Linked DNA regions of Homo sapiens. The protein of the gene in region 1 interacts with the protein of each later gene in a pairwise test. Each region holds a gene or a part of one and is shown in the gene's direction. Other genes may lie near its edges. The genes, in order: WBP11, ITSN1 and NOD2.

Region 1 (3,651 bases):
ATTGGCAGCAGGTGGGAGTAAGACACAGTTAATAATGTCTTGTGTTCTTAGGTTAGGAATGTTGAATGTCAGTGTAATCTCCATAGTTTTTTAGTTGTAGTTCTTTTTTAGAGGCAAAGGTGATTAGTCTGTTTATTAAGTGTTCAGTTTGAAAGTATAAAAAGATTATTTATGAAATGAAGCAACAGAGAACTTTTCAGCTATTTGTGATTTTAGTCCTTCATCCTATTGTCAGCCTACTAAGTTTTCTTCAGTTGAGCTAATCATTTTCCGATTGGTGCAAAGCAAAGTTACCTATTTTATGTCATTCTTAGTGGTCTTTGTCTATATATTCATGAGTTTCAAGGGGTCCTTAAAGCATTGTGTTTTATATTCCATTTTCAGCTTATACTGGAACCATTTAAGAATTCTTATCACCTTTGTATATTTCCAACATTGCGGAGCTGTGATTGAATATGCTTTTTGTCAGTGTTGGGAAATAAAGTGAAAAGATCCACAACAAATCCAGTACCATTTTTCTGGTGCTCAGATATATTTTTTTTTTTAAGACGGAGTCTTGTTCTGTCACCCAGGCTGGAGTGCAATGGCGCAATCTCAGCTCACTACAAGCTCCGCCTCCCGGGTTCACACCATTCTCCTGCCTCAGCCTCCCAAGTAGCGGGGATTACAGGTGTCTGCCACCATGCCCGGCTAATTTTTATGTATTTTTAGTAGAGATGGGGTTTCACCATCTTGGCCAGGATGGTCTTGAACTCCTGACCTTGTGATCCACCCACTTCAGCCTCCCAAAGTGCTGGGATTACAGGCATGAGCCACCATGCCCGGCTGTACTCAGATATTTATTGAATGAATTCTGTTTCCATGTATGTTTCATTAACTTCTTGAAGTTAATCTGATTTCAGGTTAAAGTCAAACCATATTTGAGTTACTTTTAAGCCATAATTATTACTTAGTGTACATTTGTGTGACATTAATTTATCATTTTTCTCTTTTCAGGAGCTCCTCCATTCCTGAGACCACCTGGAATGCCAGGACTCCGAGGGCCCTTACCCCGACTTTTACCTCCAGGACCACCACCAGGCCGACCCCCTGGCCCTCCCCCAGGTCCACCTCCAGGTCTGCCTCCTGGTCCCCCTCCTCGTGGACCCCCACCAAGGCTACCTCCCCCTGCACCTCCAGGTGATGCTTTCAATTTCTATAATAAAAACTTAGCCTGCTGTTTATTTAATTTGCTCTAAGACATATGGTCACATTTCAGTATTCTGAAATCTGAGGTCATCTTACAGTCAGTGGTGGTTTTTAAGTTGCCGTTGACCTGGCTTGAAGTACAGTTCTTCCAGTGGGTATTTGCACTTGGTTCACTTGAGGAACTTGTAGCCAGAGAACATGGGATTAAATTCTCTATTTGATAATTTTTTGGTTTTAGTTGTAGTTACGAAGCCGTTTCATGCATCTGCATGAGTACCAACTTAAAGTTTAAAATTAGAGTGTTTTTTTCCCTTACCTCTACCTAATGTCAAGGTTAGACATGCAGATTTTCTTGTGGGCTTGTTTTATGTGGTAGGTATATTTCTAGTTTACAACACTGAAATGTCCCAGTTTCATGTGAATATCTGCTTTTCAGTGCCCCAGCTGGGGCTTTTTTTCCTCTCTCTCTCTCAGTGGTACACAGAATAATTATGAGTTTGTAATCAATAGGATCTTAGATTTGATAAAATGTACTTAATATTTCATTTAAAAGTGGTATTTGAAGAACTGAAATCTGCAGTTCTTGGTATATGAATATTGTGTATGTCTGAACTGTCCATAGGACATGAGTTCTTTTCCAGTAATGATGACAGATTGTGATTAGTTGCATTCTCTTACTCCATGTGCATTGTTTTTTTCTTTGAGACGGAGTTTCATTCTTCTTGCCCAGGCTGGAGTGCAATGGCGCGATCTGAGCTCACTGCAACCTCCGCCTCCTGGGTTCAAGCAATTCTCCTGCCTCAGCCTCCCAAGTAGCTGGGATTACAGGCGTGCACCACCACGCCCAGCTAATTTTGTATTTTTAGTAGAGACAGGGTTTCATCATGTTGGTCATCAGGCTGGTCTCGAGCTCCTGACCTCAAATGATCCACCCGCCTCAGCCTCCCAAAGTGCTGGGATTACAAGTGTGAGCCACCATGCTCGGCCTCCGTATGCATTTGATGACCAGGGTTAAAATTTTATTTCCTGCCCATTGACCTTTTTGTGCAGGGGAAATGGTATGGAATATAATGCATGGGGATCAGTCTCCTGACCTTGTCCTTACTAATACCTGCACTATGCAGCTGGAATAGAACCTTGGGATGTGAGATTTGAGATAGTAATTTGAAACCAGTTGATGTCCCTTTATATTTTAAAGTAGGATGTTATTTAGAGAAGAAGAGAACATAATACTGTAAGTACAGGAATATAGGCTGAAGGTAAATACTGTTTTATAATAAAATATTCCTGAGTTTCAAATAGCAACCAATATGAATTCAGCTTATTTTCTGTAAGTTGTTATCCATTTATTTAAAAATTGGCAACCAATATTTAAATGTCCTTAATAGTAGTTAAATTTTATTAGTTCTTACAGTATTCATCTTGCCTATTTTATTCATTTAGGTATTCCTCCACCTCGTCCTGGCATGATGCGCCCACCTTTGGTGCCTCCCCTTGGACCTGCCCCCCCTGGGCTGTTCCCACCAGCTCCCTTGCCAAACCCTGGGGTTTTAAGTGCCCCACCCAACTTGATTCAGCGACCCAAGGCGGATGATACAAGTGCAGCCACCATTGAGAAGAAAGCCACAGCAACCATCAGTGCCAAGCCACAGATCACTAATCCCAAGGCAGAGATTACTCGATTTGTGCCCACTGCACTGAGAGTACGTCGGGAGAATAAAGGGGCTACTGCTGCTCCCCAAAGAAAGTCAGAGGATGATTCTGCTGTGCCTCTTGCCAAAGCAGCACCCAAATCTGGTCCTTCTGTTCCTGTCTCAGTACAAACTAAGGATGATGTCTATGAGGCTTTCATGAAAGAGATGGAAGGGCTACTGTGACAGCTTTTGATGCCAGAAAAGGCTTCTGTTCACAACAGTGGCCCATGGAGAAAGAGGCTCTTATTAAACTTAGATGAAAGAGCTGCTTCCATTGTCAGGGTATTTTCTAATTTCAGTTCAAGGAATATCCTAAAATTTAGCCTTGTTCAGAATTTACTGCACATAAAAAAGGGTATTTCATCCAGAATAGATCAGTTATTGAAGCAGTGCTGCTAACATCCATTCCCTTTCATACCACCATTTTCACCCTGTTTCTTCCCCTCCTCCAGTTCTTTGGAAATTTGTGATCGGGGGATCTTAGTTGCTTATTTGTTTTGACTCTTGTGTGCTGTGGGCACTGGAGTAGAGATTTCTGGAGAAAAAAAAACAGTTTATTTCATCTTGCCTTTTGTGTTTGAGTTATTTTTAATATTTTCCTGTAAATATTTTGTAATATTTTACTTGTAATGAAATGGATCACAATGTCATTTCCTAATACAAGGCAGGATATGTGGGAAGAATATGTACAATTATTTGATTAAAATTATTTCCCACTGACCTAAACTTTCAGTGATTTGTGGGAAAAATAAATAAATGTTCTACACCA
Region 2 (3,651 bases), on another chromosome or scaffold:
GAAAGAGAAAGAGAAGGAAGGAGAAAGAAAGAGGAGAGAGAGAAAAATTAGCCTCATCAACTGTCCAGCATTCATCCTTAAAGTAGTCTTGTTATCCTTTACTCTGTAGTGGTTTTCCTAAAGTACCCCTGCATGAAAAACAGGATTAGAGTGCTAGAGAAGACTAGTGAAATTTGAAAAGGCAGTTCACTTGTGATGTGGACTTGTCTTAGAAACGCAAGACTGTACAGAAGTGTGATGAGGGAGACAGCTGGGTGTGTGTGTCCAGGTAGTTCCATGTTGGCGAGTTTGGAGATAGAAAGTGGCCTAAGGAAGTTTACTTCCTGAATGTGAATGTTGGCCACTTTGGAGATAGAAAGTGGCCTAAGGAAGTTTGCTTCCTGAATGTGAAGGCCTCAGTGTAGAGAGATATCATCCACTGGGAGATCACTGAAAAGTAAACCAAAACATTTTTATTAATACATGGGATGGTAGAATGTCACTCCAGTTTTGTTCCTAAAGTTCGTAGCTCTCTAAGAAAGTGAATTTTAAGCAAGTTAATCTATTTTAATGCATCACTGCTCTTTCGGTGTTTTTCTAGTAGAATTAATGATAGGTAGCTTGCTTTATTAGCTTACTGCCCAGAGAGAACATTGGTGAAATTGTTTTGGCTTCAGCTCTCTGGACTGAGTTTGGCTGCCTAGCTCAGTTTTCAGTTGGTCACCAAAACCTGTCATTGTTTTTGTGTGGTATGGGGTCTGCTGGAGTCATGTGGTAGTGCGTTTGGCCCTTCATTGAGTGGTGGAGCCAGGAGTTGAGCTGAGGGCTGTGGCAGAATTTTGAATTCAAGTGAATTCGAATGTGAAAATAACAATGTCTGGCCGGGCGTGGTGGCTCACACCTGTAATCCCAGCACTTTGAGAGGCCGAGGTGTGCGGATCATGAGGTCAGGAGTTTGAGACCAGCCTGGCCAACATGGTGAAACCCCATCTCTACTAAAAAATACAAAAATTAGGCGGGCGTGGTGGCGCACAAGTGTAATCCCAGCTACTTGGGAGGCTGAAGCAGGAGAATTGCTTCAATTCCCTGCTTGAACCCAGGAGGTGGAGATTTCAGTGAGCTGACATCGCACCATTACACTCCAGCCTTGGCGACAGAGCGAGACTCTGTCTCAGAAAAAAAAAAAAAAAAGAAAGAAAGAAAATAACAAGGTCATAGCAACACAGCAAGTGGTCAGAATTTTACCCTTGGTGGTTAAAATTAAACATCCTCTTTTTAATACAGGAGGACAATGCTCTTGCTCCTCTGTTGCACTGGTGAGCATTTGATGTGTTCCTCCTTGCATTATGTCTGCAAATCGTTCTGGTGTCTGGTGGCATGCATTTGCAAGACATGGATACAGTTCATGGACGTGGACGAGGTCAGCTGGCTTTTAGTGTCAGGCTTTAACCAACCTAGTTAAGAAGGACGCTGACTCTTACCATAAAAGCACTGCAACAAGATTGGAATTGGAGCTCCAACGAATTGGAGCCATTCGTTTTGTGTGTGTGTGTCTGTTTGCCTGTGTGTGTGTACAGGGTTAATTACTTCTCTGCAAGGCAAATTTCCTGACCGGTTTTATTGTTCTAACACAGACAAAATGTTGTGTAAACACATATATCATTCCAGTGTGTTATCTATAATAGGAGTGTTCATTGTGGATCCAGTGTTTCACAAAAATCAATTCATTTCCGCTCTGAACTTAAGATAGTAGATTTTAAAACCAAGTTATCTTTCAATTTCTGAAGTTATCTGAAACTCAGCTGCCCCAGTCTTGCAGAATTGGAGAATTGCATTTTGGCCACTGATGAATGAAAGCTATATAGCTAGTAATGAGAGAAACCTTGAAAAATTGACAAGAAAATGAGTGCCATTCTTGGTATATAGCAGATTTCAATGAATAGTAGTTCCCTTTGCCTTTATTTTTCCTCTTTCCTGCACTTAATATAAAGAGCTAATATTAAAGTCATTAAATGAGAATAGATCTGTATTATAGGTAGCACTGCTTATTTTTAGACCCCTTCAGATACAGTTATTACAATTGTTGTTTTAATATTCTTTAAATGATTACAGGAGGAAGAAACTTGGTAGCGGGGTTACCAGGATGTTAGCTCCATGAGGGCAGGGAGTGTATCGCTGTTGTCCAGGGGGCTAGCCCCAGGCCCTAGAGCAGCGCCTGCTGCCTGGCAGACACGCAAGGGTTATTTGTTGGTTTATTAAATCAAGGAGTGTTTGAGGTCCTTCAAGCCTGGAGGCCCGAGGGCTCTGAGCTGGTACAGAGCAAGTGCTGGGGGCAAGAGAGACAGGTGGGGAGTGAAGGAGAGAGGCCCACTTGGGACTTGACTCTGAATGTCTGGGAAGTAGGAAGTTAATGTAAGTTTTAAGCAGGGGAGTCCCATGATGTGCTTTTGTTTAAAAATCTCCTTCTGAGTATCATGTGGGAGTGGATTGGAGGATGGATAGAGAGGAACATTCCATTGACTCGGCTTCCAGCTGTCTATGGATGTTGACGTTTCTACCTAGCCTTCTGCTTTATCTTTGTGATGAGGATAATGTGGTGTACTTTGTGAGGTCTCAGGAATGGTTTGAGATGAATGGTAATTTGTGTAAACTTTCCGGAGTTTCTCTGAGGAAAAGAGAACCCCATAAAATTATTACTATTGATCAAATGAAATAGCAGTGTAAGACAAAGATCAAGAATTATTTAGCTTTATAAACAAATTAATTGAGGTTATGAATATAGGTTTCTATAGGAGAGATTTTGTTTCCTTTTTTTAGTGAAAGAAATCTTAAATGTATGGGAATGAATCCTTAAAATAGCAGGCTTTTGCATTGTCTATAGAAGCTGTTCTCTTTGAGGAAGATCTGTTTTGTAAAATGCTGCTGTTGTCTGTCCAATCTGGAGTTTTAATTAGTATCAAAGGGAGGGAAATCCTGCAGTAATCGTAACCTTACTTTAATTCTTAGTTCAATTAGTTTTAAACCACAGTCATTATCTGTTATCTTTAGTTGTTTTGATCTTGGTAGATGAAGTGATTAATATTACAGTTGTGATTTGGTAATTTAAAAAATAACATGTTTTTTCCTACTACAAAAGGAATACATGTTTATTGAAGAAAACTTTTGGAAACATATATAAGGAAAGAAGACTAAAAGCCTACCAAGATCTTACCATCCAGTGATAATGACTGTTAATACCCTGTGAAGGTCAACATGCTCAAATTACCCAGCAGGTGCCTGGTGTGAAGCTACTTAGCCCGGGAGAGTTGAAGGCCTGTTAGGGACCACGAGCACTGAAGGTGGCAGGACGGTCCAGGGCCAGTCAACCCAGACCTTTGTGGTTCTGGGAGGATGCGTCCTGGTGTTACTACACCTTATAGTTATTTAGGAGAATGTGGGTTTAATATGAAATCTTCTGATTTTTATGTGGGCCACACTTTTTATTGTTAACACACTGGGGTTCAAAGCATACCTGAGGGCTGGATTCAGTCTTCGTTGCCTTGCCAGTTTGTAGCCTCAGGTACGTACAGTTTTGTAGCCTGTGTTTTTCACTTAATGTGTTGTATTTGCAGCCTTTTTTGCTACATCGTCATATATGTAATCAGTCACTTATTGCTGGACCTATAGATTCTT
Region 3 (3,651 bases), on another chromosome or scaffold:
TGGGTAGTAGACTCAGTTTTTACCCCAAGAGGCCAGGCATCACTGGCCTGTGTGATCCTCATAGGCCAGTCCATCTCTGGAATTCTTGAATGGATCATCCATCCTTGATTAGGGATGTCCCCGTGATTACCAGGGTGTGCAGAAGGGCTCTGGGAAACCTGTGGGTCTGTCTCTGTGTTCAGAGAAAGGTGAGGGTGGCCTGGTTCTAGCTCATGGTGCTCAGACTGTGGTGTGTAAAGGCACTCGTGGCAATGCAGATTCCTGGGCCTGCCTCTAGTGATTCCCATTCAGTAGGTTTGGGGTGGGGCCCAGGAAATCTATATTTTTCACAGACACCCCTGGTGATTCTGATACAAGTGGTCTCGCCCTGGGAGAACTACTGGTCTGCAGCAACCAGCTTGGTTTTCCATTAGCAATTACTGTCCTTGAGCGAGTTTTACTGCTCTTCACCTTACACACACTAAAACTGCCAAGGCCGTAGGGGAGGGGAAGCAACCATGAGGTTGCTGTGAGTGCACTGTGTGTGTGTGTGTGTGTGTGTGTGTGTGTGTGTGTGTGTATGAGAGAGAGAGAGAGATTGAGAAAGAGAGGAAGGGAGGAAGGGGGAGGGCACAGGCTCCTCTCCCACAGTGCCAACCTGCCTCTCTCCCACTTGAAGTGTTTCCATGCCAACTGAAATCCTCAGCCTCTAGGAAACCCTATATACACAGTGCCCCTATATAGGTTTCTTTAGACTCTGGCTCTCTCAGACTCTAGAGTGATGGCTTTAAAAGTTTTTTGAATGTTACCCACAATGATTGAGAAAGAGAGAGAGAGAGCACGCACCACCATGTAAACATGGAACCTAAGTTTCACAAAATGACTTCGCTTTATGAACTCTGAGACACTCTGCTCTCTTCTGTTCTGTTCTATTTCCATTTTAGAAATGCTGCTCAGGACCTTCAAAATGATTTGCATGACCTGCAACCTGCAGTCTGAAAAATCACTGCACTACAGAAGTGGCCATAAGAGGCCCTGAGGGAGAAGCTGCACAATGTCATGGTTAAGAGTGGGGTTTGGAGCCAAGCCGCCTAGGCTCAAAGCCTTTATGTGCCGTACAACCTTGGCAAAGTCACTTCGCTTGTCTGTGCCTCAGTTTCTTTCTCACGAATGCTCATAATAATGGTTCCCATTTCACTGGCTTGTTGTGAGGATGAAATAGTGTTATTATTGAGAAGTGGTAAGGGTAGTGATCAGTGCTAGCGATCATGATTCTAGGTGACTTTTACTGTGTACCGGGTGCTCACAAGGCTTTATGTGCACAGCCTGGTGAGGCTGATAATACTATTGTTCCCTCTTTTTTTTTTTTTGAGACGGAGTCTCGTTCTGTTGCCCAGGCAGGGGGTACAGTGGCACAATCTCGGCTCATGCAAGCTCTGCCTCCCGGGTTCACGCCATTCTCCTGCCTCAGCCTCCCAAGTAGCTGGGACTACAGGCGCCTGCCACCACGCCCGGCTAATTTTTTTGTATTTTTGGTAGCGACAGGGTTTCACTGTGTTAACCAGGATGGTCTCGATCTCCTGACCTCGTGATCCGCCCGCCTCGGCCTCCCAAAGTGCTGGGATTACAGGCGTGAGCCACCGTGCCCGGCCTGTTCCCTCTTTTATAGATGAAGAGACCAGCAAATAACTAGTAAGTCGCTGATCAGGATCACAATATCCAGCTGAGGCACTCCAGAGCCTGAGCTGTTAACCATTCAGTCAGGGCCTCCCAAGTTTGCCTAAAGATAAAGAATCATGTGCACAGTTGTTAAAATATACAGATTCCTGGGCCCCACCCCGCAGATACTTGATTGCCAGCTCCAGGGTATGGGCCTGAGAATCTGTCTTTTAGGGAAGCTTTCAGATGATGTTGTGATCAGGTGAGTTTTGGGAATGGTGCCCCAAGAGGAGTGGCAGACAGGGCTTGCTCGGCAGGGACTAGCCTGTTGGAGTGGTGCCATTGGGGTTAAGGACTGGGCAGCAGGGCCTCACTAACCACAGCCTATATGCCTGTTTCTGAAGTTTTGGCCACTCTCATCCAGCTGGTCTACTGTCTGCTGACCTAGATGATGGTAAATTGTCCCCAGGGGTAGCCTGTCTAGTTCAGGCTGCACCTTTCGCATATATCAGCTCCTTTCCACCATCATCCCCTTTGTGAGGCTGCTGTGATTATCATGTTCCTTTTGCAGAGATGGAAACATTGCCTCAAATTAGCTCTGTCATTTCCTAAGGATTCCAGGGTTCTTTAGTAGGGGGTCTGGATCCTACGTCCTGGGCCATCCCCATCATAGTGCACCACGTCACCTCCCTGGCCAGGGACCGTGGGGTCTCCACTTTTTTGGGGTGCTCCATCTATGCAGGGTTTCCTGGAAGCACAGATGCTGGCACTTCAGGGATGAATGAAAGTCTTTTTGGGGGATTTGTAGATTTTTTTCTTGTCTTACTAGCTCCATTTTCAAATGTATTTATTTTGTCTCTTTAGTTTGCGCGATAACAATATCTCAGACCGAGGCATCTGCAAGCTCATTGAATGTGCTCTTCACTGCGAGCAATTGCAGAAGTTAGCGTAAGTCAGCCTGGGCTGTGGACAATGGGCTCCAAGTGCCCTGGTCTCACCCCAGGTCGTGCAGCCTGGGAAGCTGTGAGTGATGGGCTGGGGCAGGGGCTGTTTGCATGATGGGGGGTGCAGGTGATTCCTGCCCAGAGGGGAAGGGCAACCCTGGGATTTGGTGCTCACTGTCCAATGTGCTTTGCTTCTGTGTCTCCTCTCTTCTGGAACTGAACAGTCTATTCAACAACAAATTGACTGACGGCTGTGCACACTCCATGGCTAAGCTCCTTGCATGCAGGCAGAACTTCTTGGCATTGAGGTGAGCCCAGGTTTTCCTTATTCCCTGGAAACTATTTTTTGCCCCATTCCTGAGTCAGTCTGATCTGGTCTTGGCCTGGCACTGCCCACACTGGCTCCTGACCTCCTGATTGAATGCAGGGACAGTGTCTCATTTTAAGCAGGGGTTCTCTAATGCTGTGATCTCCCCAGTAAACTCTGGACTAGCTCTGCTGAGGACTTCCTGTCTTTTGACCTTTAGCCCGTAGGGCAAGAAAGCTTTTCTAGGCCCCTTTCCTTTTCTGTGTCTAAGAGTGTCACAGCTTTCTGGGTTTACTGAGTTCCACGATGCATGTTGAGCTCGTCCTGGTGGGGGAGGCATACACAGTTACTTGCCACCCCAGCTGTGGCAGCGAGTTGCTGCAACACTCCCAGGAGGTCCTTTCACCACTCAGAGCATGCAAGGTTTGCAGTCCATCTGGTTCTGCATTTCTGCTACTCCAGTGTCTCCCAGTTTCAACAGGAGTCTCTCTCTCTCCTACCTGATGCCTTTAAATTGCCCCTCTAGCTGGCCGCTGGGTTGGCCTGGCTTCTCTCTCCTTCTCTCTCTCTCAGATATTCTTGCCTCCTGTGATTTGTGAGGCAGTAAAAAAAGACAAAGTAAAGAATTGCTTCCATCTATTCTTTTACCTCTTGGGCTGGGTTTGTGGATGGGAGCCGCCATTTTAAAATGGCGGGCCACATAGCTCAGTCTCGGCAAGGGCTACTGAGATCAGAACCACAGGTGCCAATTTGTACAAAGGA

The links.
Region 2: the proteins of WBP11 (region 1) and ITSN1 interact in a two-hybrid assay, tested with the Homo sapiens proteins (2 studies listed by BioGRID and IntAct).
Region 3: the proteins of WBP11 (region 1) and NOD2 interact in a two-hybrid assay, tested with the Homo sapiens proteins (one large-scale study listed by BioGRID and IntAct).

What each region holds. Positions count from the first base shown.
Region 1 is NC_000012.12:14,786,479-14,790,129, reverse strand, and holds part of WBP11 (WW domain-binding protein 11), read left to right. Parts: intron 1-996; coding exon 997-1,179; intron 1,180-2,631; coding exon 2,632-3,065; 3' UTR 3,066-3,651. UniProt on the Homo sapiens protein: Activates pre-mRNA splicing. May inhibit PP1 phosphatase activity.
Region 2 is NC_000021.9:33,648,877-33,652,527, forward strand, and holds part of ITSN1 (intersectin-1), read left to right. Parts: intron 1-3,651. UniProt on the Homo sapiens protein: Adapter protein that provides a link between the endocytic membrane traffic and the actin assembly machinery. Acts as a guanine nucleotide exchange factor (GEF) for CDC42, and thereby stimulates actin nucleation mediated by WASL and the ARP2/3 complex.
Region 3 is NC_000016.10:50,714,085-50,717,735, forward strand, and holds part of NOD2 (nucleotide-binding oligomerization domain-containing protein 2), read left to right. Parts: intron 1-923; coding exon of another isoform or gene 924-924; exon of another isoform or gene 925-1,397; intron 1,398-1,524; exon of another isoform or gene 1,525-1,671; intron 1,672-2,502; coding exon 2,503-2,586; intron 2,587-2,806; coding exon 2,807-2,890; intron 2,891-3,651. UniProt on the Homo sapiens protein: Pattern recognition receptor (PRR) that detects bacterial peptidoglycan fragments and other danger signals and plays an important role in gastrointestinal immunity.